Linked DNA regions of Homo sapiens. The protein of the gene in region 2 purifies or fractionates together with the protein of the main gene of each other region. This does not show direct contact. Each region holds a gene or a part of one and is shown on either strand. Other genes may lie near its edges.

Region 1 (7,025 bases), on a different chromosome or scaffold from region 2:
TGAGACCAGCCGGGGCAACATAGGGAGACCTTGTCTCTACAAAAAATAAAAAATTAGCCAGGTATGCTGGCACACACTTGTGGTCCCAGCTACGCAGGAGGCTGAGATGGGAGGATTGTTTGAGCCCAGGAGTTTGAGGCTGCAGCGAGCCATGATCTTGCCACTGCACTCCAGCCTGGGCAACAGTGTAAGATCCTATCTCAAAAAAAAAGTGAGGGGGCAGGTGCCGTCACTCACACCTGTAATCTCAGTGCTTTGTGAGGCCAAGGCAGGAGGATTGCTGGAGGCTAGGAGTTCAAGACTAACCTGGCCAACATAGCAGGACCCCATCTTTATAAAAAATAAAAAAAAAATTAGTTGGGCATGGTGGTACATGCCTGTGGTCCCAGCTACTTTGGAGGCTGAGGTAGGAGGATTGCTTGAGCCCAGAAGTTCGAGGCTGCCGTGAGCTACTATTGCACTACTACACTCCAGTCTGAGTGACAGAGACCCTGTCACCAAGAAAATTTGTTTACTAAATTTAAAAAAACAGTTTTTATTAATATCATCCGTAATATTTGTGTTAACAAAAACAATTCCAATTATATGTTTGGCAAGTGGGTCCTCCAATCTAGTAATAGCATAGTCTCTTTTTTTTCTTATATAGCAGGGCTCCCCTACCCCCAGGCTGAGGACTGGTACCAGTGTGTGGCCTGTAACAGGGAACCGGGCCACACAGCAGGTTAGCGGTGGGTAGTGAGCATTACTGCCTGAGCTCCATCTCTTGTCAGATCAGCCATGGCATTAGATTCTCATAGGAGTGCAAACTCTTGTGAACTGTGCATGCACCAGATCTAGGTTGCATGCTCCTTATAAGAAACTAACTAATGCCTGATGATCTGAGGTGGAACAATTTCATCCCAAAACCATCCCCCTCTCCCCAGTCTGTGGAAAAACTGTCTTCCACGAAACGGGTCCCTAGTGCCCAAAAGGTTGGGGACCGCTGTTATATAGTATCTTAATTCTAAATTAGAAGTTCATCATTTGGCCAGGCACGTTGGCTCACACCTGTAATCCCAGCACTTTAGGAGGCCGAGGCGGGCAGATCACCTGAAATCAGGAGTTTGAGACCAGCCTGGCCAACATGGTGAAACCCCATCTCTACTAAAAATACAAAAAATTAGCTGGGTGTGGTGGTGGGTGCCTGTAATCCCAGCTACTTGGGAGGCTGAAGCAGGAGAATCGCTTGAACCCAGGAGGCGGAGCTTGCAGTGAGCCAAGATTGTACCACTGCACTCCAGCCTGGGTGACAGAGCGAGACTCTGTCCCCCCAAAAATAAGAAGTTCATCATTTTGAGCTGGGCACACTGGCTCACACCTGTAATCCCAGCACTGTGGGAGGCTGAGGCGAGCGGATCACCTGAGGTCAGGAGTTCAAGACCAGCCTGGCCAACGTGGTGAAACCCCATCTCCACTAAAAATACAAAAATTAGCCGGGCATGGTGGCAGGCACCTGTAATCCCAGCTATTCGGGAGGCTGAGGCAGGAGAATCGCTTGAACCCGGGAGGCGGAGGTTGCAGTGAGCCAAGATCGTGCCATCACACTCCAGCCTGGGGGACAAGAGTGAGACTTCGTCTCCCAAAAAAAAAAAAAAAAAAAAAAAGGAAATTCATCATTTTATGCAGAGATTATATAGTAAATTCCTAACTGGTCTTCCTGCCTCTTGATTTTTCTCCAGTAGATCCTGTATTCTTCTGCCAGATTAATCCTCATAAAATGCCATTTATATCACCTCAGTGACACACCCTAGTTGCTTATCAGGCTGAGTTCTAATGCCTCATACTGGCATTTAATTCTCTGCCTATCTCTCCTGAGATAACAAACTGGATTTATTCTACCTCTGCTTTGTTTAAAGCTGTTTTTACCTTGTGATTGTTCCCATAAATTGTCTACTCTTTGTCTTTAAACTAGGCCATCCTGCTACTCTATGAACTTATTGTCTGTAATTTTGGTATTATTCTGAAGTGTTGCCTTATTTGTTAATTGATTCTTGGATCTCTTTTATTTCATCAAGTGAAATATAAACTGAAGGCAGGTCCAGAGTCTGATTCGTTTTTTCACTCCCTTCTTCTGCACACCCAACAATGTAAGATAAGACTAGGTGCTTAGTACATATTTATTGGTCGCTGAGTCACCCATACTGTTTTCAATCATAGGATATTAATATGATTCTCTCAATGATGGATATCAACCCAGGTGATACTGTTTTGGAAGCTGGCTCAGGCTCTGGTGGAATGAGCTTATTTTTATCCAAAGCAGGTAAGAGATTGGACTGAGCTGGATCTCAGTAACAAAGAAAACATTCAATTTGTTCATAATAACAGAAAGGTATAAAGATATTTGGGAAAATACCTAACATTGAGGTAGCATTCTCCTAGAATCTGAAAGTAAGCAACTATTTTTCTTTCCATTCTGTACATTTATTCCAGTCAGTCTCTTTCTAATCCTCCCTCAATTTTCTTTGCTTTGTTTTACTTTCTCCATGCTCTCTAATGCTGCTTCTTTTTTCTTAAGTATACTTTTTATTGGAATATAATATGGCTACAGAAAAGTGTGCAGATCATAAGTGTATATCTCAATGAATCTTTGTATAGTGACCACTCATGTACTTATTACCGAGATCAAGGTAGGGAGTGTCCCTGCCCCACAGATGCCTCCTCATGTCCCCTCCCAGTCCTTATCATCACCAAAGGAAACCACTATTGTGACTTTTATCATCACTGATTAGTTTTGCCTCCTTCGAACTTATATAAAATGGAATCATACAGTATGTGCTCCTTTGTATCTGGCTACTCTCATTCATTATTATGTTTGTGAGATTCACTCATTGCATGCAGCAGTAGTTCTTTCATTTTAGTTGCTGTATAATACTCTCTATTTAAATCACAATTTACCTATTTTACTGTTGATAGACATTTGAGTTGGATATTACAAATAGTGCTGCTTGGAACCTCCTTGTGTACTTGTCATGTTATTGTTGAATACTAGTGCCAGGTGAATACTTAGCCTGAGGGAATATGGAAGGACGTTGTCAGCTGTTGGGGGGAGAGTTATATATCGTTAGGGCCAAAGAATTATAGTAGGTGTTCATAAAGAAATTAATCATAGTACAGAGCTATTAAGTAAAAAGCTAGATCATGAAGAATTATCTTTTTTTTTTCCAGAAAGTCTCTAAAAATTGTCAGTTGGTAAAAGTACTGCTTGAAGGTGGGTGTCTGATCAAAAATCAAGAGGTGTATATTAAACATATATATTTTTTCATGTTCCTACCACTTAATTTCTAGTTACTTTTATGCTAGTTGATTAGTACCTCTTTGCCTACCTAATTTCTCTGAGTGTCAGGGTTGCTTTGGGTGGTCTGTCTGTGCAGTGTTCTCTTCCCTACATAATACTAGACTGCTGAATAGTCACAGTACTTTCTTTGAGTAGATTTTATAAAGATTACAGATAGAAATATGCTGAAATTAAACTCACACCTTTTGTTCTTTGACCTAATGTCTTCACATATGAATATTATCTAGATTATACTAAGCCGGTAAATTCATTCTGGGCTCCTCAATCAATCTTTTGTTTGACTTTTCTGTACATAGTTAAAGGCAGTCATTTTCTCATCATCTATGACAAATTCCTAACTGCACGGTTTCATTTGACAAAGTGGATTTATAAAAATTGGTGAGAACAGATAAGTGCCTATATTTCTAAAATATATAGTATCAGAAGAGTGTCATGGCTTGAATAATCCTAAACTATAAATGTGCAAGAACTTATTGCTATTTACCTATGTGATGGATATTTTTCTCCATATTTTCTTTTCCAGTTGTTTATGTTACTTTTTTTTTTTTTTTGAGGCGGGTTCTCACTCTGTTCCCCAGTTTGGAATGCAGTGGTATGATCGTGGCTCACTACAGCCTTGACCCTCGGAACTCAAGTGATCCTGTCGTCCCAGCCTCCCAAGTAGGTGGGACAATAGGCACATACCACCAAAGCTGGCTAATTTTTAAAGTTTTTGTAGAGACTGGGTCTCACTGTTGCCCAGGCTGGTCTTGAACTCCTGGCCTCAAGCAATCTTGCCTAAGCCTCCCAAAGTGCTGGGATTACAGGCATGGGGCACCACGCCCAGCTTATGTTACTATTAAAATTAATTTTTATCTCCTGAGAACCTGATAACTTGCAGTTGGAGTTACATTTCAAAAGATACCTTGGAATTTAAACTTCATTAGTAAACTGTAAACTGATTGATCTGGGATAATCTCCAAATGGTATCAAATCACTTCAGATAGAGGTGGGTGGAAAGTTAATTGCCTTAAGTTAAAATGTAGTACTCCTCTCTGGAATTGCAGTATTACTGTGCTAATTAGTTTAAAAGTTCTTCACATACACACACACACACACACACACACACACACACACAAATACAAATACCTTTAATTTTTTTTTTTTATTTTTTGGTAGAGACAGGGTTTCACCATGTTGGCCAGGCTGGTCTCGAACTCCTGACCTCAAGTGATCTGCCTGCCTTGCCCTCCCAAAGTGCTGGGATTACTGTGGCGAGCCACTGTATCCGGCCACAAATACCTTTTAAATATATGAAAGACTCAACCTCATCCATAATAAAAGAAATGCAAGTTAAAATTACATTAAAAGGCTGAGCATGGTGGCTCACGTCTGTAATCCCAGCACTTTGGGAGGCCGAGGCAGGCAGATTGCTTGAGCTCACGAGTTTGAGACCAGTCTGGCAACATGGCGAAACCCTGTCTCTACCAAAAATACAAAAAGTTAGCTGGGTGTGGTGGCACACACCTGTCGTCCCAGCTGTTCAGGAGGCTGAGGTGGGAAGATCGCTTGAGCCTGGGAGGTGGGGGTTGCCGTGAGCTGTGATTGCACCACCGCACTCCAACCTGCGTGACAGAGTGAGATCTTGTCTCAAAAAAAAAAAAAAAAACCAAACTCAAAAATCTACATTAAAAATGATAAACTTTATTCACTTTTTAGATTGATACAGATAAAAAGTTCAATAACTTAGGGAGAGTATGGAGATACAGGTATTCTTTTTTTTTTTTTTTTTTTTTTTGAGACGGAGTCTTGCACTGTCACCCAGGCTGGAGTGCAGTGGCGCATCTTGGCTCACTGCAATCTCTGCCTCCCAGGTTCACGCCTTTCTCCTGCCTCAGTCTCCCGAGTAGCTGGGACTACAGGCATGTGCCACAACACCTGGCTAATTTTTTGTATTTTTTTTAGTAGAGACAGGGTTTCACCGTGTTAGCCAGGATGGTCTCAATCACCTGACCTCATGATCTGCCCGCCTCGGCCTCCCAAAGTGCTGGGATTACAGGCGGGAGCCACTGCGACCGGCCTGAGATACAGGTATTCTAATACATTGCTGGTTGGCATATAAGTTGACACCACTTACGTGGAGGACAATGTAATATTATGTGAATAAATTCACATACCCCTTGAGCCAGCAATTCCATTTTTAGGACTTTATCCTGTAGAGATATACTGGCTTGATACAAAGACTTAGGTATAAGAATTTTCATTGCAGTATTGTTTATATTAGCATATGACTAGAAACAAGCTAAATGTTCATCGTAGCCATACAGTGAATATAATGCCTGTTAAAAAAGAATGCAGTACATCTAGAAGCACTGAAATGACATTGGTAAGTAAGAAGGAAGGTACAGGACAGTGTGTATAATACACCACAGTGTGTATTAAAAACACAGAGAGATACTTGGCATGCTTGTATAGGCAGTGACTATCATGGGAAAGGTAAATAGCTGGTAATGTGGTTGCCTCTGAAGAGGGAGGGAGATTAATTGGAGATCAGGGATAGGAGATCAGACTTGTAACATTGAACTATTTGAATTATTTTTTTCACATACATGTAGTACCTTTGCAAAATACATTTTTGACACTTTTTAATAAACTGATTAATATTATGAAATATCAAATTATTTTTTACTTAAGTTGGATCACAAGGACGAGTCATAAGTTTTGAGGTACGAAAAGACCACCATGATCTGGCTAAGAAGAATTACAAACACTGGCGTGATTCATGGAAATTAAGTCATGTAGAAGAGTGGCCAGACAATGTGGATTTTATTCATAAGGACATTTCAGGAGCAACCGAAGACATAAAATCTTTAACATTTGACGCAGTAAGTTTTCTAACGTGGGTCCTGTGTTATTACTTTGACTATAAAGAAGATAGGGGTCAGGCTTCTTTTGTATGGGCAAAGGTCTTCCTTCGTTTGCTTCATGTCTATCTCTAGGGATTGAAAGAATATTTTCGTTTCATGCCTTTTAATCTCATGGTGGGATTTGGGACAGAGAGACATACTGAGTTACCGAGTTGGGTGCTGAAGTTGTCATTGAATGTGGGGTAATGACTGAAAGCTAGGACCAAAGACTAGTTGAGCATCATGAACCTCAGCATTTCTAGGATGAATCATACTTTGGAAGCAGCATTGGAAGCATATTGAACCCGGCACCTAACCTGAACTGTGAGATTTGGGGGAATAAGTAGCTTCCATTTGACAGGGAATAGGCAGAAGGCATCTTTAGTTAGTTGAAGTCAGGATATCAAGGGGAGTGTGTTCATTGAAGATGTCGAGGACAGAGGTGTTTATCATGAACAAAGCTCCAGAAAGTGGAGCAGAGACATTGTGAGGAAGAGAAACACTGGGAAGTTGACTTAGGGAAAAGAAGCAGAGAAGATGAAAGTAAAAAGATAGATGACAAGAGAGGATACATTAAGCTGCGATCAAACATGGTGGAGATCTGGGACATGGAAGTATTTGCTGGCTGAAGAGTTTCAGAATTCCTTGGTGATGCCACTTCACAGTTCATAGCTTCACACTATGGACTGAGGCCTTGGTTAGGAGTCTTTCTTCCTTTCCTTAATTGGCTGCTGGAAGGATGGACTGTTTTGGTGAGAAATGAAGCAAAGTTCAAAGAGGAGAGAAAATCTTTTTTTTTTTTTTTT
Region 2 (7,702 bases):
GCTGCTGGCCCCTTGGGCTTCGAGGGCTGCCTAGAGGAAGAGTCTGGTGCTAGGGACAGGGGCAGGAGGAGGCTGGGTCCAGCAGGCAGAGCACTGGGGGCTGTGGAGAAGGCCCTGGTCGGGAGGGGGAAGACCTGGGCTCTAGATCAGTGCTGCCACTGCCGGGCCATGTGCCCCCAGGTAAGCCTCTGGGTTCTGGACTCAGTTTTCCCATCTGCAAAATGAAGCCTTTCCAACTCTTACACGTTGTGGGTTCTTTTAATTAATTTATTTAATTACATATATATATATATATTTATATATATTTTGAGACGGAGTCTCGCTCTGTTGTCCCCGAGCTGGAGTGCAATGGCGCGATCTCGGTTCACTGCAACCTCCACCTCCTGAGTTCAAGCGATTCTCCTGCCTCAGCTTCCCGAGTAGCTGGGATTACAGGCGCCTGCCACTATGCCCGGGTAATTTTTTTTGTATTTTCGGTAGACATGGGGTTTCACCATGTTGGCCAGGCTGGTCTTGAATTCCTGACCTCAGGTGATCCACCCACCTTGGCCTCCCAGAGAGCTGGGATTACAGGTGTGGGCCATTACGCCCGGCCCATTGTGGGTTCTTTAAATGAAGAGGACTCTCCTGCTCCAGGGAACTCAGAGCCCCCAGACGGGAGGAGCCTGGACAAATCCAGCCCATTTTCCTGGTGATAAGCATGCCCTCCCCCCATTTCTGGCCAGCCCCAGCATGTCCCTCAAAGCATTCACATCTTATCAACTGGAAGAGGCCCATTTCCACGTCATAACTCCTCTGAAGTTGGGATGGTCTCACCATCAAGGACATCTCAGAGCTGGTGGTGAGGCATCAGCCCTCCAGCCCCCGCCCATCAGGTGCCTTCCCCTGGGCCTGGGCCACCTGTCCCTGTGTGGTGCTCTTCCCCGGGTGCCCTCATTGTTGGGTTCCCATGGGCAGCATCTAGGGGCCCAGAAACATGTTTCCCCCAACTTAAAAAAATGTATGACTGGTCAAAGGAGGTGACACCAGCTCCGCAAGCTACTAAACAAAAGTGGCTCAATGCCACTGCAGCAGAAAGCACATGGGCCAAGGGTGGGAGACAGGCAGACAGATATCATCCTGATAAGAACTACAGTGTGATAAGAACTGGGGTAGGCCCGACCGTCCTGCTTGTGCTCAGATGCTCCAGCACCTATACAACCCCAGGGGCTTAGAGGATGCTGGGAAGAAAAGGAGGAAGAATGCCAGTTGCGGTGGCTCAGGCCAGTAATCCTAGCACTTTGGGAGGCCGAGGCGGGCAGATCGCTTGAGGCCAGGAGTTCGAGACCAGCCTGACCAACATGGCAAAACTCCATCTCTACTAAAAATAAAAAAATTGGCTGGGTGTGGTGGCTCACACCTGTAATCCCAGCATTTTGGGAGGCCAAGGTGGGCGGATCACCAGGTCAAATGATCGAGACCATTCTGGCCAACATGGCGAAACCCTGTCTCTACTAAAAATATACAAAAATTAGCTGGGCACGGTGGCACGCGCCTGTAGTCCCAGCTACTCGGGAGGCTGAGGCGGGAGAATCGCTTGAACCTGGGAGGCAGAGGTTACAGTGAGCCGAGATTGTGCCACTGCACTCTAACCTGGCGACAGAGCGAGACTCCGTCTCAAAAATAAAATAAAATAAAATAATTTTAAAAATTAGCTAGGCGTGGTGGTGGGCGCCTGTAATCCCAGCTACTTAGGAGGCTGAGGCAAGAGAATCGCTTGAACCCAGGAGGCGGAGGTTGCAGTGAGCTGAGATTGTGCCAATATCACTCCAGCCTGGGTGACAGAGTGAGACTCTTCTCAAAAAAAATAAAAATAAAAAAAAAGAAGAGATGCTGGAAGCAACTCCATGGACTCCCAGGACAACAGGGCTGAGAGGCGGCAGAGCAGGGGCCGCCTGGTGCCCGTGGAGTCTGCCTGGGCAGTCAGTGAGCATGTCAGGAAGGATTAACGGTGGGCATGCCTACAGCGCCAAGGACATGCCAGCTACCGCACGGGAGCTGCCTGTCAGCCTCCCCTGGGCTCCACTTCACCACTGCCCTACAGTCCCTCTACCCCATGGGGTTGTTGTGAGGAAACTGAGGCTCAGAGAAGCTAAGCAGGTTACAAAAGGGCACGGGGCTCAGAGGAGAGCAGAGACGCGGGCCCAGCAGCTGAGGCTACAGCTGGCGTGCTCCCACCCTCCAAGGCAGAGCCCATGGCATGTGCTTTCCAGCGGCAAGAGCTGGAAGGGAGACAATGTTTCCCAGGAGCGACATGTGCCAACTCTCCGTGAGTCCTTCCTGTGCACAGGCCGGGGCTGAGTGCTTGAGGTCTATTAACTCTCTGTCACAGTGACCCTGTGTGGTGGGCACTGTCACTCACCTGTGATGTAGTGAGGGACACAGGCACAGCAGGGTTAGGGGACTTACCCAAGGGCACACAGCTATAAGAGGCAAAGCCATAATTTGAACCTCGGCAGTCTGGCTTCCAAGCTCTCAGGCCCTCAGCGGAATTGTGTGGCCAAGTGCTGTCTTAGGATCTTGTGTGCACCCAGGTCGCCTCACTCAGTCCTTGTGACACCTCTCCCCGGTGGATGCCATTCCTCCGGCTTTACAGATAACATCACTGAGGCCTTCATTCCCAATGGCTGGGGCGGAAGAACTCTGCCCTGGACCCCAGGCCCCGCTGGGACACCCCTCGGAGGCCGGGTTAGGCGCACAGCCTGGGCCGCTCCGGCACGGACCTGTACACCCGGGCGCGCGAGCGGAACCGGGCGAGGCGGAGGCGCGGGGCACTCACCTCGGGGAAGGCCCCATCGGCGAAGACCATCAGCAGCGACGTCTTCCCGCAGCCGCCGTCGCCCACCAGGACCACCTTGACGGACCGCACGCCTGGTGGCGCCTCCTCACCCGCGGCCTGGGCCGCCGTCATCCCGGGGCCGGGCGCTGAGCGGGCGGGCGGGCGGCTGCGGCGCAGAGACCCAGACTGCGCGGGGCAGGCCCGGCGGGGCAGGAATGTGGAAGGGGCGGGGCGGCGGGAGGAAGTGCGAGCCGGGCGCCCCGAGAGCCAGGTGAGAGGCCCGGGCGGCTGGGCTGGGGCCCTTCCTCTCCAGGCCGTCTAGGTCCCTGAAGAAACGCTGCCCGAGCACCTACTGTGAGCTGGCCGCGCTGGGGCCACGGGAGGTCGGAAGGGAGAAGACAAACAGCGGGACCATGACAGTGGGGGCGGGGGTGTGCTCAGGGGCTGGGTCCCAGATCCCAGGCAGGAGCCAGTGACCTTTAGTGAATGAATGAATGAATGAATGAATGGTGCATTTCCCCAGGGGTCTCAGGACGCAGCACAACACAGGCGTTTCATGCCAGGTGGGAAGGGGATGACCCCCTTCACTGGCCCCACCAGGCCTGGCCTGCCCCCTCCCGCAGCACCAGGAAGCTCTGCTGCAGGTGGGCAGCCACCTGACACCGTGGCTGGCCACGATCTAGGGAAAGCGATAGAACCTTCCCTCTGTAAAGTGTGAGTGTTTCTTATTATTGCACCATGAGATGTCCCCCTGGTGCCCAAGGGCCCGGGGACCCTGAACTGTTTAAGACAAAATCCAGGCCCTGCCTTGAGAAGCCCACGGCTTAGAATGGTAGACACGCAGGACATCAGTGTGATCAGAACTACAACGGGAGTAGGGACAGGCAGCGGGACGGGAGTAGGGGAAAAGAGCTCCTCGCCCACGTTGAGGGAGTCAGGAAACCTTTCAGAGTCTTGAGGAAAAAGTGAAACACAGTCAGATGGGGGAGGGAAAAGGTGTTCCACCGGAGACAGCGGCACGTGCGAAGCTGCGGAGGCCGGAGCGGAATGCTGCCCCCCCACCCCGCCCCCGCAGAGGGTGAGGCTCGCTTGCACAGTGGTGCAGCATGAGGAGCTGGTGCTTGCTCAGTGGAGCACGTTGGATGCCAGCAGTAAATCCAGCATTGAACTGGGAACTCATTGTCACCTGATCTCTCCACTTCTCCTAATGGCCAGAGTTGAAATCTTTTAAAAATGGGCACAAGGGTCTTCCCAGATCTTGGACTGAGTGTTTCTATTGAAGCTTAAAAGAACAAGGGGCAGACGTCATTAGGTTCCCCCTAATTTATGCTGGTCATGACATCCCCCCTCATGGAGTTCCAAGTCAGGCAGGTGAAAAAGCACCTTCAACCTCCTTTAAACTCACTGTGGTCTAAAGAGGCAGCCAGGGCAGGAGTCACTAGGTGGAGAGGCAGAGCCCAGCTCCTTGACTCCTCTGCCCGGCTCCCGCTCCGGGCTGTGGTCTGCAGGCTGGATGGAGCCCCACTTGGAGGGAAGGATCCTCCCCAGCACAGCTCTGCCTTTCCAGGTGCCCCTTCCTCCCCGAAACTGCCACAGGGCTCGGCAGTGACTTGACACTGGGCTGGGCAGGTAGCTCCAGAGCAGGGCTCCCCGCCCCAAGGAGTGGTGAGAGGGGCCCCACCCCCTCGGATCAGCTGTCAGCATCTTCCTCCCAACTGCTGCTGTCGTCAGGCCTTGGGTGGCAAGGCTGGAAGGCAGGTGGGGCCAGACTGGGGGTGGAGGGAGCTGAGAGTCAGGCAGAGGCGTTTGGCCTTGGTTGCTATAGGGATAATCTCTGTAATGACACACTTGATGTTTGTCATGCTATACAGTTTCACTGAACATTTCCTAATAATAACAACACCCATTAGTGGATTGCAAGCCACGTGTAGGCACTGTTCCCTAGGAGGTAGGGACTCTTAGCTCCATTTCACAGATGAGGAGCCTGAGGCCCAGAGAGGCTAAGTTGTTGACTAACATCCACAGCTAGTAAGAGGCTGAACTAGAATTTGGATCCAGGCGTGACCCCAAAGCCAGGTGGTCTCCCTCCATCACGCCTCATCTGCACAATTGCAATTTCATTTAGCTCTCAGACCACGAGGTAGACCAAGCAGATGACCTGCTTCCTCCCATTTTACAGATTTGGGAACTGAGCCTCAGAGAGAGGCAGAGGGGTGTCTTAGACCAGCAGGACACAGCAAGGATTCAATCTCCTGACGTCAAGCCCCAGCCTCCGCTCCCCCACCATGCTTACGCTCCTGCGAGAGGGAGCTTAGTCACCAGGCCACAGAAATCGGCTCTGGTTGGCAGGGAATGTCCCTGAATCTCAGACATTGCTGGACCTGGGACCATACTGTTTTCCTGGAATTTATTTTTAGAGTGGTGGCCCAGGTCACACAGTCTGCCTGGCCAGGGTACTGTTTACTGTTTTAGTGTTTACTGAGGCTTCTCAGGACTTGCAGCCTGTGGGAGACTTAGGCCCCTCGAGGCCCCACCAACCCCAGGCCCAGATCTGTGGGGAGCCCAGCACCGTGGCCTACTGCCCTGAACCCTTCAAGGGCAGGGGCCAAGGCTCACCGTATCCCCTAGAGGAGTGCCTCTCTCAGGCTGGCACCCAGCTGTGGCTCAGGACGGTATGCCCAGTTGATCTCCTGGCCAGACAAACCAAAGGGACAAGAAAGAAAAAAACAGAGTGAGAAAGAGAGGAAGGAAAGACGGAAGGATGGACGGCAGAGGGGCTGGCTTAGAAGAATAAACAAACTGAAGAAATGAATAAAGGAACAAATACTTGCATGGATGACGAATACCACATGTGACATGAATGGGGAGTCTGTGGACAGGCAACCACTCTCCAGCCTCCGCCTACTCCAAGGCCCCCTGGCCTCACCCCTCTCCCCATTTTCTCACATCCCACCCCCATCCTAAGGCCAAATCCTATGCGGTCCTGATCGAGTCTCCACTGCCCTCATGTGGTCGCTCAGCTCCCTGCACAGTCATCACCTGGGGCTGCCTCCCTGCTTGGGGTTCCTGGCTTGGGGGTGTGGGGTGTTTGTGGATGGCTGAATGAAGGGGAGAGATACAGTCTTTCCCCTTGGAGTGGCTTGGCAGGGTGCACGGGCCCTGGTGTGTAGCTCCCGAAGCTCTTGGTTCCGCGTGCATCCCCTGTCCTCTGCTCTTTTTTTTTTTTTTTCCATGGGGAGTCTTGCCCAGGATGGAGTGCAGTGATGTGATCTCGGCTCACTGCAACCTCCGCCTTCCGGGTTCAGGCGATTCTCCTGTCTTAGCCTCCTGAGTAGCTGGGATTAGAGGCACCTGCCACCACGCCCAGCTAATTTTTGTATTTTTAGTGGAGACGGGGTTTCACCATGTTGGCCAGGCTAGTCTCAAGCTCCTGACCTCAGGTGATCCACCCGCCTCGGCCTCCCATAGTGCTGGGATTATAGGCGTGAACCACCGCGCCCGTCCCTGGCCCACATTCATCTGAAATACTGGATCCTAAGAGCCTTTGCCCTCAGCCTGAACTCCTCCACCCAAAGCCTTGACCTCGCATTTACTGAGCACCTACCTGTGCCGGACACTTGGCACATGTCATTTCATGCCATCCTATGAAGTATGTTCAATTCTTATCCTCCTTTGACAAGTGAGGAAACTGAGGCCCAAAGAGGTTGGATAATTTGCCCAAGGTCCCGCAGCTAGTAAGCAGAGAAGCTGGGATTTGGACCCAGGCCCTTGGGCTCCGGAGTCCATACACACAGAATGTCCAAAAGTCAGAGGTACAGGGCTCTTTAGAGGCCATCTTATCCAACACCCCCATTCTTCAGATGGGGAAACTGAGGCCTGAGAAGGGAAGGAACTTACACAGCAAGTGAGCAGCAGACTCAGCTTTACGCCAGGTGGAAACCAGAGGGCCTCTGCTCCCAAGTTTCTTTTTGTCTAGCCTGCCCAGACAGCTCCAGCCTGGCTGCCATCTAACTGGAGCCCCAGGCCACGGGGACGTGCCCTCCTGCCCTGGCCTCCTCTCCCTGCCAAACCATTATTGATCTTTCAGGTTGGGACGGAAGGGCTGATAATAGGGTGGGAGGGGTGGAGAGAGAGGAGGTCTGGTGGCCCCATCCTGGTGCTTATTAAGCCTTTTGATTTGTCCCTTTTGGGGGTCTGCAGGCACAGACAGATAGAAGAGAGGAAGGGAAGTTTGGAGCTTAGAGCTGCTGCCGACCGTGATGCAGTGGCTTGCTCTGCTTCTCCCACATGCAGGCCTAGCCCAGGCAATGCTGCTGGGCAGGTCAGAGACCTCCACACCTGTCCTCTTCGGTGGGGCTCCCAGACAGAGGGGGCCTGGGACCCTGGAGGTGTGTCCTTGGGCCCAGGGCTGGAGGAGGGGAGATGAAGGGGTGGGGAGGGATGGGACCCTGGATGTGGGGTGGCCTGAGAAAGGAGGGAAATAGGTTGGGAAGATTACAAGAGAGAAGAAGGAGGCAAGACAGCTTCTCAGAGCCTGGGTTGTCCCAGCTTCTCTCCAGGATGGCACCTCAGTTTGAGTCCTGCTGAATGAACCCAAACCTAAAGGCAGCTCAGAGGCCTCCTGCCTGCCCCTCCTGCCACTCACTGGCGAGGGTAACATTCACTGATGTCCCTCTGTGTCACCTCCAAAGCTGCTTAGAGTGACCCCTCCCTCCCTTGGACCTGCTCCTGCTCAAGACCCCACCATGGCTCCCCACTGCCAGCAGGATAAGGAGCTTCTCCCTGAGCTTGGACACACAGCCTCCACAGCCCAACCCCACCTGGCCTCTCAAGCCTCAGCCCAGCTGTGTCTCCCCAGACACTGTGACACCTTTGCTCAGGCAG
Region 3 (7,025 bases), on a different chromosome or scaffold from region 2:
CTGGAGCCTTCTAAGTGCTGAGTTTTTTCCTCTCGAAACAGCAGTAGCATGAGACAGGAATGCAACATTAGGTCCCCACTGGCCCCCTCTCCCCTGGCACGCCTGCCAAGCTGATAGATGAGTGGAAAAGATGACAATCACGACCACCCCCACCCTTCTGGGACAGGCAGGCCTCCCTTCTGTGATGGAAGAAGTCTGGGTAACAGAGGCACCACAGCCACGATCAGCCTCAGAGGAGGCAACCGAGGCAGGGTGGACAGGCTGGAAAACCAGGTGGGTGCACAGCTGCTACTGTGAGGCTGCAGCGAGCTCTCCTGATCAAAGCTGCGTTGCATGGGGGCAGCGACCACAGGTCCCAAGCACAACCGCAGCTCATTCTGTGGAGGTGGAATGGTCATGGGCTGGCCAAGAGAAAGGAACCCATACAGAGGTGCAGCAGTTGGGTGAGAAACCAAAAATCCCTGCGATTCTTAACTCTGCCCATGGCCATGACCTTGGGTCAGGCTTACCCTTGTGTAGGTAGATTCGTCAGGGGATGGAGAAGTCAGAGCTGGGCACTCTGCTGGCATCCACTAAATGTCTGTTGAACTGAATAGCTGAAGAAGGGCATGAGGTTACATCTACCCAACATGTGTACAAATTTGGGTTAAACGTATGGAGAAAATGACTGGAGTGACTCGGTGGCTATAGCTTTTGTGCTGAGTGAGATTTGCCACCAAACACAGCTGTCCACTCACTGAGCTGTTGTTCGAGCACAGAAGTGGCATATGCTCAACTCTGGGCCTGCAGCATAATGTCTGACATAAACGGGGTATACAATAAATATCTACTGGAAAAAAAAAATCAATGAATGATTTCAGAGACAGAAAATAGATGGTGGCTGCCATGGGCTAGTGAGAGTGGGGGGCAGTCATTCTTTAATGGGAACAGAGTTTCAGTCTTGCAAGATGAGTTCTGGAGGTGTGGATTAGCTTGACTTAATCATTCCACAATGTACACACGTATCAAAACATCTTGTTGTACATCATAAATATACACAATTTTTCATTTGTCAATTAAAAAGTAATAATTTTTAAAAAGAGTTCTCGAGATGGATGATGGTGATGTTTACACAAAAATGTGAATGTACTGAATGCCACCAGACTATACACATAAACATGATTAAGATGGAAAATTTTATGTTGTGTGTATTTTGCCACAATTAAAAATAAAACTTAAAAAAATCAATGAGTGATTAATTAAAAATGGAAAGAAATGGCCAAGGTTAACCAAGGAATGAATGACATCATACAATCTTAGATTTAAAATGGGTGCAAACTCTCTGCAGCTCTTCTATCAAGAGGTGCAATCTCTTTCCTCAAACATTGAATCTGGCCCAGCTTGTGCCTTGATTTGACCAGCAGAACAGAGCAGAAGTGATACTATGCAATTGCCCAGCCTAAGCTTCAAAAGAGTCCTCGTAGGCTTCCGTTCCCGCACACGGATCTCTCCACCTCTGTGTGAAGAAGTCCAGGCTGGCTTGCTGGAGACATGTGGCCCAGCTAACAGCCAGCACCAACCAGACACGTGAGCAAGGTTCTCAGAGCACCCAGCTCCCATCAGGCGATCAGATGACACATAAGTGATCCCAGGCAAGGCCAACGGAAGAACAGTCCAGCTGAGCCCTGCTCCGATCATTGACCCACACAATCATGAGCACATAAAATGCTGCTTCAAGCCATTAAGTTTGTTATGCATCTATAGAGAACTGATAGAGTGAGGAAGGCATCAGTTGAGAGGTAACAAGAAATGGGGTCCAAGTCTCCCTCCAGTCCTGCAATTGGAGATTAGGGGGTCCTACCTTCACTAAAGCCACCTCCTGTTTGTGGCTCTCCAATGAAGATCTTATAAGCCTTTAAGTCCTAAGAAGAGTTTGGCAAATCTCTTCAAGCAGGATGGCAGGGCACTCCAGGGTTAAGACAAAGGAGGAATGAGTGATGGGCTTTTTAAAACTCGGCACTGCCTAGTGAAGAAGGAGGAAGGGACAGCTCCCTTGCTCTCTGAGATACGCTCTATTTTGCCCCTAGACGTTTCTAATAGTAAACTATAGTAAGTCTGACCTCGAGAGATCAAACAGGAAGGTGAGGACACAGAGTGAGCCCAACAGTTTGTGAAACAAACTGGAACTCTAATCTAACAGGAGTATGAAATGAAACTGCCAACTCTGAGCTATGAAGACTACACTTTACTAAAAGGATGCAATTTCTGATGGGTGACACATATTAACCAGATTTTAGCAAGCTTCCTCAACTTACACTGGTTCCTAAGGGACCAGATATGCTGGCATCTGTGGACAATGAGCCTCTCAGCACAAGTGTGATTCAAGTGGACTGTACTTGCTCTCTTTTTTCTCGAGATCTTCGCCAGGCACCTGTTTCCCACTCTGGCCCCAGCAGCTGTGCTTGTATCAGTGGCCACTCCAGGAGCTGCACCACCTTGTCCCAGAATGTCATTTATGCCAAGTTAATAAAAGATGAAATGTCCTGTCCCACAAATAGCTGATTCAGGAACATTTAACAAGCTAAATTCTTAAGAGAACAGATGTTCTCGTGGGGAACATGATGAGCTTAGGTCTTAGGACACTTTAACTATTTTTTACTTTCCTTTGCCTTTATCACTATGATATCTTCAAATATAGACCCAGTCCAGGAAAATCTGCACTGCTTTCTGGGTCACCATACCCAAGGCTGCTCATTTCCAACACACAGAGAATCTATCTGGCTATTACCACTAGATATCATCTATAGGATTAGTACTTCTCACAATTACCCATTTTGGGAGCCCATAGAAGAGGAATATTGAGGGCCCTGGCTAAGAATCAATGTAATGATGCACTTTTTACCCACTTATGACTTCCTTTGCAATGTCAGTAGACACAGGATCCAGTGTTGGATTTAGAAGCTATTCCAATTGCAGGCGGCTCCTTAACATCTTGTGCTCTCTCCCAAGACAGTGCTGGTCACCCCTGCAACCCGTACCCGATCCCTAGGGAGACTACATTAATGCCATGCCTTCCCCAAAACCACCTCTTAACTCTAACACTCATCTCAATTGTCCCACGCTCCCACGCCCTGAGGCCAGCTCACTTCACCCAGGGCAATCGGCAATAGCTTACTAAATACTGTCTGTGTGCCAAGAACAGTGTCAGCTGTCCTTGTGTCCATCTGAACCCTTGGGCAATATTTCATTTTAAGACACAGTCGCCAACATGAGGGCCTCTCAGGGTCCTTCATGAACCACTCTGGCCCACCCTCCTCATAGGTCTCCTGCTGGGATGAGGGCTCTGATCAGCAATGATGTGGACAAGTGAAAAACCAAAAAACAAGTGCCTTGAGGTATCAGTATTTAAAAACCCTGATCTGCCCAGCAGTCCGAGCCCTATTCCAGGCTCACCACCGTCTCTGTCTGTAACACACTCTCATGACGTAAAGAACCCTCCAACACACATCACCAAATGTTCCAGAATTCAGAAAATCTTGGTCTTTTATTTCTGTCCCTTGGGTTAAAGACACCTGTCTTTTAGTCATTTTGCTTATGAATGTACTTCTACTGGGGCAACTTAGGAGATGGGGAAAATGAATTAAAATCAGTGAAGCTTGATGCTCTTAAGCAACTCTGGTGATGATGATGATAATGATGAGAAGAAGAATGACTGGGAGACAGAATTAGTGATCCACGTTGGGATGAATTAGCTAAATGGATGTCTATGTCTATCAATCAGCTCGTCACCTCCCATTTGCTCAAAGCTTTGTCTTATGGGGCATCTCCCATCAAGGTGCTAAGTGCTGGGAACCAGAGGTATGAGCAGAGACAGGGCCCCCAAGAGGGCTGGCCCCCTTAACCAAGCTGGCCGGGAGTCCTAGACAATGGGCATCATGGGGCGTCATTGGACCCTGGCAGAAAGCACTACTACTTTGAACTCACTATCACCAAACCACACACAATAGTTTCCTAATTCCTCACCATGCTCCTCCCATCCCCTCCTTTTCTACCAACAATGGACACATCCCCTGCAGCCTGGCAGTCAGGGGGCTGTCTTCTGAGTCCATCAAATGCTGAAAGAAAAATATACAACTACTCAGTTCTTTTTAAAAGAACAAATAGATCTAAATTTAATCCAACTTACCTTTGTTTCCCAGGAGAAAGGGGCAGAGTGCTCATCTTGCCAAGTTAGATCCTGAAATAAAAAATCGAGAATAAGTCTGAAATTCAAACCCAGACATACCCCATGCAAATATCCACCCAGGACCGTGGGGGAACCAAAACTTAGGAATAATCCCAACTCCTGGCTCTAAACAAGCCTGATGCTTTGACACTCTCAATATAATGCGCTGACCGTCTTGATCAGATTGCTCCCTCATCTTTCCCGCTGAGGCTGCCAGACACTCCCCTCCCCAGCCAAACAGACAACAGGGAATGCCGGTGAGGCCCCCCAATGGACTCAGACAGATGAGATGAGTAGGAGTGGATGAGGGCTTGATGGTCTCAGCAGAATCAGGCACAGACTCAGCCCTGAACAATGATTAGCTGTGTGGCCATGGGAAGATGACTCAGCCTTTTTGAGCCTCAGTTTTCTCATTTGTAAAAGCAAAATGATACTTCCCTTGCAGGGCTGTTGTAAGGATTAAATGAGGTAATCTGGGAAAAGAACGCCAAGCCATAATCTGCCAGTCAATGCCAATACAGGAGCTCCCCTCCTCCCCAACAGGCCTACCAGAGAGCTCGAGGGCATGGATCAGCAGAATCAATGAAGAAAAACGCCAATGTAATCCATGTGACTAATTATAACAAGAACTCTGAAATCACTCCCCACCCCCACCAAACAGAACAGGACAGAAAGAGCCCTATAGAACAATCACTACGAATTTGACCTTGGATCCAGTATGTTTTGTTCACTGGCCTGCACAAATGACTTGGGGAAGCCACCTTTCCTTATATCCCACCCTCTACCCGCAGTTATTCCTGTGCTAGCAAATGTCTCATCTGTGTCCAGCTTCGATTGGGTAACTTTTGTTTGTTTGTTGGTTTGTTTTAAGAGATGGGGTCCCAGTATGTTGGCCAGGCTGGACGCAAACTCCTGGGCTCAAGGGATGCTCCTGCCTTGGGTGTCCAGAGCAGCTGGGACTACAGGTGTGCACCATGTCTGACTGCTTCTACTGGGAGCATATTTTCAGAACAAAAAATCAGGACACATTGGGTGATACAGGCTAAAATGGGATAAAATATTTTAAACGGAGATCATATCCATATCTCCCCAAAACTCCAGGTGATTTATGTCCTTCCGTAAGTATCCCTGGATAACTGTCTTCTTCCCACCCATAGGTACACCGACTCTGCGCCCCTAAGTCAAGGGTCTGGCTTCCCTCTCCTCTACAGGGCAAACCAGTTCTGCCCACAGACCCTCTTCTTTCAGCTTTTGACAGAGCCTCCGCCACCCTAGCTTAGCCTCAGACACTGGGGGCAAATGCCAGGGCCCACGCAGGGGGAGTGCCTCACCAACACATAAGTGTACACATTCAGCCTTCCAGACCCCGAGTGTGCGTTCTCTGTGCAGACGCCTCCTAACATGAACAGCCAGTGGGAGGTCAGTCTTTGAACTCAAATAACGAAGGCATGCCAGGGTCTGGGCAGCTGAAGGCCTATTCCCAAGAAGCGGGGACAGGGAAGGAAGTGTGTGATGACTCCCCAGCACAGCCCAAGCACGGCCAACCCTAGATGACAGGGGCAACACAGCAGGGCCTTTGTCCGCTTCTCTATCCCAAGTGCCCGGAAGACTCAGCGACTGCCCGTAGCGGACGCTTACTCACTCTTTGAGAATATGTGAATAAACAAACTCTGCACAAGCCCGGATCCTTTCACAGGTTGATTTTCCCCCACAATCACCCGCTCCCAACACTCACACTCCCCCAAGACTTCCCAATGTGGGGGCACAGGCTCTTCACAGCTCTTGGCCCCAGGAGGAAGAGCCAGCCATCAACAGGGTAGAGATCTGGTTCTGTGTCCTGATGGCTGTGCTGTGTGCCTTGGCTCTGTGCAGTAGAGGCTGGTACATTTGTGGCACAAATACTTCACATATGCTGGGGATAAAGAGCAAGGAAAACCCAGAGAGGAGACTGTCAAAAGGCCAGAATCCAGGTCTTTATTTTCCCAGGACAGCATATAAAAGGACTAAATATATTTATATCAGGAAAAAAAACACCACTAACAAAGATACTAGGTATAAATATTAAGAATTACAAAAGTGAGGGAAAAGCCCTACAAACTGGGTTAAGCTGCATTAAAGTGTATCAAACAGTCAGTTCTGAGAACCACATAGTGTGTGCAACTAATGACCATGTGCACAGTAAGATGACCCCCATCCTCAGAGTGTTACAGTCACTGTCCTGTAATGGTATTTGCTTATGATCCTGACTTCTGAACTGATTGGTATGCAGTGCCTCATGGCTGTCAAGCAAAACCTTTAAAAATGAGAGGAACCACTGCCTTTTTGTTTGGAATTTCAGTTAAACTCAAGTCACTTCCCAATGCACAAACTTCATTCCTCCAAAAATGGAAATGGATGCCTGGAGGAATGTGAGTTACCAAGGCTTTGTGATTAGATGTCTCCTAGCAGAGGCAGAGGGCCAGCCTTCAGCTCTAGGGGGCTCCTTGTCCACGTCTCTGTGTGCATGCTAGGGGTACAGTTGAGCTAAATAACCAAAGTCCCTAAAATCCTCAGAACCCTCTGAGTTCCGTTTAGAAGCAATCAAACCAAGAAGGGCTTTGTTTTCACATGGGAAAAATAAAAGAGGCTGATGGAATGTAAGTATCATTTATTCTAGTTAATCATTCATTAACTCTTCGTGAATAAATGATCTCTGCACAAGCCTGGATATTTTCACAGGTTGATTTTCCTCCCCAGCCTCCACACCCCACACTCACACACCCCCTAAGACTTCACCGGCTCTTCACAGCTCTTAGTTCCAGGAGGAAGAACCGGCCATCCA

What was found. Proteins that work in one complex are often made in the same cells at the same time.
Region 1: the proteins of RHOD (region 2) and TRMT61B purify together in Homo sapiens (affinity purification with mass spectrometry; 4 studies listed by BioGRID and IntAct, with this or other methods). This does not show direct contact.
Region 3: the proteins of RHOD (region 2) and C1orf198 purify together in Homo sapiens (affinity purification with mass spectrometry; 4 studies listed by BioGRID and IntAct, with this or other methods). This does not show direct contact.

Annotation. Positions count from the first base shown.
Region 1 is NC_000002.12:28,860,291-28,867,315, reverse strand, and holds part of TRMT61B (tRNA (adenine(58)-N(1))-methyltransferase, mitochondrial precursor), read left to right. Parts: intron 1-2,196; coding exon 2,197-2,299; intron 2,300-6,007; coding exon 6,008-6,198; intron 6,199-7,025.
Region 2 is NC_000011.10:67,052,151-67,059,852, reverse strand, and holds the start of RHOD (rho-related GTP-binding protein RhoD), read right to left. Parts: upstream 3,007-7,702; 5' UTR 2,951-3,006; coding exon 2,819-2,950; intron 1-2,818. UniProt on the Homo sapiens protein: Involved in endosome dynamics. May coordinate membrane transport with the function of the cytoskeleton. Involved in the internalization and trafficking of activated tyrosine kinase receptors such as PDGFRB.
Region 3 is NC_000001.11:230,851,503-230,858,527, forward strand, and holds part of C1orf198 (uncharacterized protein C1orf198), read right to left. Parts: intron 4,506-7,025; exon of another isoform or gene 4,376-4,505; intron 4,217-4,375; coding exon 4,166-4,216; intron 1-4,165.